Linked DNA regions of Homo sapiens: region 1 is linked to region 2. The links come from fine-mapping of genetic effects on gene expression. A gene starts in region 2. The other region holds a variant in brackets. All regions are shown on one strand. Distances are from middle to middle.

Region 1 (2,913 bases), 760 kb before region 2:
CACATACCAAGGGATTACTATACTGAATTGAAAAAGTTCAAATGGTCAGAAAATGATTGCTTCCTAACTACCCATCTCCTACAATTTGAGGAAGAGAACTATAGCCTGCCCACCCCCCATTTGAGAAAAGGGGGCTGGACAGAGAATAAGAGTCAATTGTGTAACTTTCAAATTCACATTATTGCAGTGCATGTGTGAGGGGAGGGCTTGTATATAGATGTATGTATAGCAGGTATATAGATATATGTATATCCTTTTTAAAAAGTGTATTGAAAATTGTTTTTCCACTTGCTTTTCCCCACTTTTATTTTGGACATCTTTGCATATCTGCATACAGATCTCTACCTCATCCTTTTTAATAGTTGCATAGCATTCAGTCAGGGTGCTGTGTTTGATTGGGTAGTTTGTGCATTACACACAGGCATCCAGCCAAGGAGCTGAAATCAAGCCCAAGGTCCACTTGCCAATACTCTGTGCCAGTCGGCTCCCTCCTAGGATGCTTTCCTCACCTTGTCCTGACTCTTACAACCCCGCACCAGGCCATCTATCAGCCTGGATACCCTCCTCATTCTGCTGAAGCTCTAACATCCCATGCTGGGCTACCCCTCTGTGGGACTGCACTCCTTACCTTGTTTAGGCTCTGATACTTCCACAGTAGGCAGCCCTCCTACACAGATGCTCTCCTTACCTTGCTCCTTAGCATGAGGCAAGTGTGCCTGCCTTACTTACTCTGCTTTGCCTAATTAGGGCCAAATTGTTCAGGAAGAAGAGTTGGAAATAACTTTTCCTTTTTCTTTCTTTTTTGAGTCAAAATCTCACTCTGTCACCCAGGCTAGAGTGCAGTGGCGTGATCTCAGCTCTGCAGGATCCGCCTCCCAACTTCAAGTCATTCTCCTGCCTCAGCCTCCCAAGTAGCTGGGATTATAGGCACATGCCACCATGCCCAGCTAATTTTTGTATTTTTAGTAGAGATGGGGTTTCACCATGTTGGCCAGGCTGGTCTCGAACTCCTGACCTCAGGTGATCTGCCCACCTCAGCCTCCCAAAGTGCTGGGATTACAGGCACTTTTTACTTTTATTTTTTATTTTTAGGGACAGTCTTGCTCCATTGCCCAGGCTGGAGTGCAGTGGTGCAATCATGGCTCACTGTAGCCTCCAGCTCCTGGGCTCAAGTGATCCACCTGCCTTAGCCTCCTGAGTATCTGGGACTACAGGCACATGTTTCATACTTGGCGTGTGTGTGTGTGTGTGTGTGTGTGTGTGT[A/GTA]TGTGTAGGGAAGGTCTCACTGTGTTGCCCAGGCTGGTCTCAAACTCTTAGCCTCAAGTGATCCTCCTGCCTTGGCCTCCCAAAGTGCTGGGTTTACAGGTGTAAGCCACCATGCCTAGCCCTTACTATGTTTTGTTGTTGGTTTTGTTTTGTTTTGTTTTGAGATGGAGTCTCGAGTCTCACTGTGTCGCCCAGGCTGGAGTGCAGCAGCACGATCTCGGCTCACTGCAACCTCCACCTCCTGAGTTCAAGTGATTCTCCTGCCTCAGCCTCCCAAGTAGCTGGGACTACAGGCGCTTGCCACCACACCCAGCTAATGCCCTTACTGTGTTTTAAATGGCACTGTGAAGGATACGAGATGTATTTAATGTCCATGTTACTGCAGTTTTACTTTTGTTGCTCTTTTATTGTCAAATGAGATAAAATATGCAAAGGATATATAATTTTGTAATGTCATTTGAAAATTTGAGAAATACATCTTCTGGATTTTAAGCTTTAGAATGAAATAGAAAGTTACATTGTACAATTGTTATGAATGTGTGTTTCTTAAGAAAGCCTGTTATGTCTGTAGTCTGAAATTCTTTTTTTTTTTTTTTTTTTTTTGAGACGGAGTCTCGCTCTGTCGCCCAGGCTGGAGTGCAGTGGCGCAATCTCAGCTCACTGCAAGCTCCACCTCCTGGGTTTGCGCCATTCTCCTGCCTCAGCCTCCTGAGTAGCTGGGACTACAGGCGCCCGCCACTATGCCTGGCTAAATTTTTTTTTTTTTTTGTATTTTTAGTAGAGACAGCATTTCACTGCATTAGCCAGGATGGTCTCGATCTCCTGACCTCGTGATCCATCCGCCTCGGCCTCCCAAAGTGCTGGGATTACAGGCGTGAGCCACCGCACCCAGCCATAGTCTGAAATTCTTGAAAATTGCTGAAATTCTTGAAAATTGCATCTTTTTTTTTTTTAAGACAGAATTTCGCTCTTATTGCCCAGGTTGGCGTGCAATGGCATGATCTCAGCCCACTGCAACCTCCGCCTCCTGGGTTCAAGCGATTCTCCTGCCTCAGCCTCCTGAGTAACTGGGATTACAGGCGTGCAACACCACGCCTGGCTAATTTTTTATATTTTTAGTAGAAACAGGGTTTCACCACGTTAGCCAGGCTGGTCTTGAACTCCTCACCTCAGGTGATCCACCCACCTCGGCCTCCCAAAGTGCTGGGATTACAGGCATGAGCCACCGAGTCTGGCCAAAATTGCATCATTTTATATAACTCTGAATGAAAAAAAGCAGGATACAATTATGTATACACTGTAATTGCATCTGTATAAAAATGTGCTTAAAAAACAGAAGATACACCAAAATGTCCCAGTGACCATGTTGGAGGTAGTAGACTTACGGGTATTTTTCTCCTGTTTCCTCTATTTTCAAAATTTCTGAAAAGTAGTAGTATTACTTTGTGACTTTTAAAACTTTTTTTTATTGCTTCTTTTTAGCTTTTGGAAAATTTCTTCAACCTTTGAATACTTTAGTAATGATTTTGCTGCCTTTATTTTTCAGTGTCTTGCTAAGAATTTACCAAGTCTGAATTTGTGGTTTAAAAACTAGGTTTTATTGTCCAGGCGTATTGGCTCAAAATTTATAATACCAACACTTTGGAAAG
Region 2 (2,913 bases):
TCTGAACAACTGACTTACTGTTTATGCTTGAATCTTTTTTTGTTTTTTTTTTTTTTGGAGACAGAGTCTTGCTCTGTCACCCAGGCTGGAGTGCAGTGGCGTAATATCGACTCATCGCAACCTCCGCCTCCCAGGTTCAAGCGATTCTCATGCCTCAGCCTCCTTAGTAGCTGGGATTACAGGCATGCACCACCACGCCCAGTTCATTTTTGTATTTTTTAGTAGAGATGGGTTTTGCCATGTTGGCCAGGCTGGTCGTGAACTCCTGACCTCCGGTTATCTGCCCGCCTCAGCCTCCCAAAAGTGCTGGGATTACAGGTATGAGCCACCATGCCCGGCCTATGCTTGACTCTTTTATTAGTTGGAGCTGTTAATATTAATAACTTCACCAGGTCAGACAGGTTGAGTGGTAAGTTTGCTGATAGGTTTGATGGCTGCTTCTGAGACCCAGACCCAAAATCTAGGTTTAGCTACGTTAAGAAGGCAACCACTACAGATAAGTGTCCAATCATGAGATCTCTTAAAACAATGATGGAGTCCAACCCTGTTAGGAAAATCCTTTTGCTAGACAGAGAATCTCAGATCTCTTTCCTCCTGGTCATTATGTCTTGGGCTAAAAGGAGGACATTTAACATTTATTGTATGCCAAACAGTGCTAGGCCATTCCGCATGTTATCTTATTTAATCCTCATAATTTATCTATGAAATATTTTCTGTTGTCCCCATTTATAATTCCAAGTTGTTTTTTTTTAACCTTCCCAGACTTTATATCTGCTACCTCTCCGCCTAGAATAGTGTTATGCCTCCTTTTTGCATAATGAATGCCTACTTATTCCTCAGAGCTCATGTCAGATGGTACTATTTTAAGGAAGCCTTCCCAGTCCCCTAGGTTTGTTTCCCTATTAAACTGATCAAAGGCTTGATTCCCTGTTACACTTCACTGATCAAAGTGCACTGATCTCAATAGCACAAATAACAATGCGATTACTCATTTAATATCTGTCATTTCTGCTGAAGTGTAAGCTTCATGAGCACAGTAACTGTGCCTGTATCATTTTTCTATGTTACTTGTAGTGCCAACTATAGTTCCTTGTTCAGTAAGTAATTATTATATGATTATGGCAAATAAATTCCATAAACAGAAGTTGAACGCTGGTCCACTGTAACTTCAAAACCTTCCTTCAAATTATACCATGTGCAGGACCTAAGAAGTCGAGGAAGTATTTCTTAATAAAATTACTCCAGAGGCTCTTCCTGAACTCTATTTCAGTTCTAGGTTGGCTACCTAACGATAAAAGTTAAGCATTAATTTTATGTGGTTAGGGTGTGGTCTGAGATAGAGAACCTAAAGTCTTTAAAGTCTCCCCAGTTCCAAGTAGGTAATCCTTCTGAGAAGTCCCACCTTTCTGAGCAGCTGTGTTTGAAGAAAGCTAGTGGGAAAAGTTCCAGGATTACATGTCAGGAAACTACAAGAGGTAGAAACATTTGTTGATTTACCAGTGTTTTTAACTTCCTGCTGGGCTGAAAACTGCTTGTTTCGTGGAAAAGCAAAACTTGACAGCAAACATCTAAAATGAAGAGCTCCCAAACTTTTGAGGAACAAACGGAATGCATTGTGAACACTCTACTCATGGACTTCTTGAGCCCAACATTGCAGGTTGCCAGCCGGAACCTATGCTGTGTAGATGAAGTAGATTCAGGTAAGGTTCCTGCCCTAGGCGGTGATTGCAGGTCAATAAGAGTATGTTTTCAGCCGGGCGCAGTGACTGATTCCCGTAATCCCAGCACTTTGGGAGGCCAAGGTGGGTGGATCACCTGAAGTCAGGGGTTTGAGATCCGCCTGGCCAACGTGGTGAAACCCCATCTCTACTAAAAGTAGAAAAATTAGCCAGGTGTGGTGGCTCATGCCTGCAGTCCCAGCTACATGGGAGACTGAGGCATGAGAATTGCTTGAACCTGGGAGGCGGAGGTTGCAGTGAGCTGAGATCACGCCACTGCACTCCAGTCTGGGCGACAGAGACTCGGTCTCAAAAAAAAAAAAACAGTATATTTTATTTATTTCCTTTAAGTTTCAAAAGGCAAACTCTAAGCTTTCAGTAACACCTAAAGCGAAAGAGGTTCTCAATGAAGGGAAACTTTCTGACTATTGGTGTTGACAGAACATTTAAGCTCTTGGGAGATCATGATATGAAAATTATTTAAAAGACAAGACAAATTTTTCTCATTGCCCAGATTCCTGGGACTTGCCATTGCTTCAAGCATTGTAACAAATGTGTTCCCTCTGTCATAGGAGAGCCTTGTTCTTTTGATGTGGCTATCATTGCTGGTCGCCTTCGGATGTTGGGTGACCAGTTCAACGGAGAATTGGAAGCTTCTGCCAAAAACGTCATTGCAGAAACCATTAAGGGACAGGTCAAGTTTCTACTTCATGCTATTGTTTGCTGCTTTTTTTTCTATTTCAAACTTCCTTTTCTTACTACTCCCATACTACAGTGACTAGGAATGTTCTATGAAAATATTTGGGTGCTTATATTTCAAGGAAGTATAGCAAGAATTCTCCAATTGCTAAAACCTAAGTGGTACAGAGATGGAAAATTTTGGGCATAGGCTGATGAACCTTCAGTTTGTCTCTACTTGGTCTTCATCACAGCTGTTGTGCTTAGTGTGCACAGAGCACATTTATAACACTTTATTCTTGGCAAAGTATAGTATCTTTTTTTTTTTTTTTTTTTTCAGACAGGGTCTTACTGTGTCACCCAGGCTCAAGTGCAGTGGTGTGATCTCAGCTCACTGCAGCCTCCACCTCCTGGGCTCAAGCGATCCTCCCACTGCAGCCTCCTGAGTAGCTGGGACTTCAGGCAAGTGCTACCATGCCCATCTATTTTTTTTATTTTTTTATTTTTAGTAAAGATG

Alleles and levels. Positions count from the first base shown, and alleles are read on the strand shown. Sizes are in standard deviations (SD) of each study's normalised expression.
As copies of GTA replace A in region 1, the expression in subcutaneous fat of the gene that starts at base 1,368 in region 2 goes down (small effect, 0.33 SD a copy in TwinsUK).

The links. PIP is the estimated chance that this variant, and not a neighbour inherited with it, causes the effect.
Region 1: its variant is the best candidate, but not a certain one, in a credible set for the expression of BCL2L15 in subcutaneous fat (TwinsUK, PIP 0.82).

The regions. Positions count from the first base shown.
Region 1 is chr1:114,649,628-114,652,540 of GRCh38, reverse strand. The region is part of intron 2 of DENND2C (DENN domain containing 2C); the gene reads left to right. Among named protein-coding and RNA genes, the nearest start is that of DENND2C, 19 kb to the left of the region's middle. The variant A/GTA (reference allele first, on the strand shown) is at 1,265.
Region 2 is chr1:113,886,036-113,888,948 of GRCh38, reverse strand. BCL2L15 (BCL2 like 15) reads left to right here and starts at 1,368. Exons shown (of 4, transcript NM_001010922.3): 1 at 1,368-1,700; 2 at 2,291-2,412. The coding sequence starts at 1,574. The region is part of intron 3 of AP4B1-AS1 (AP4B1 antisense RNA 1); the gene reads right to left.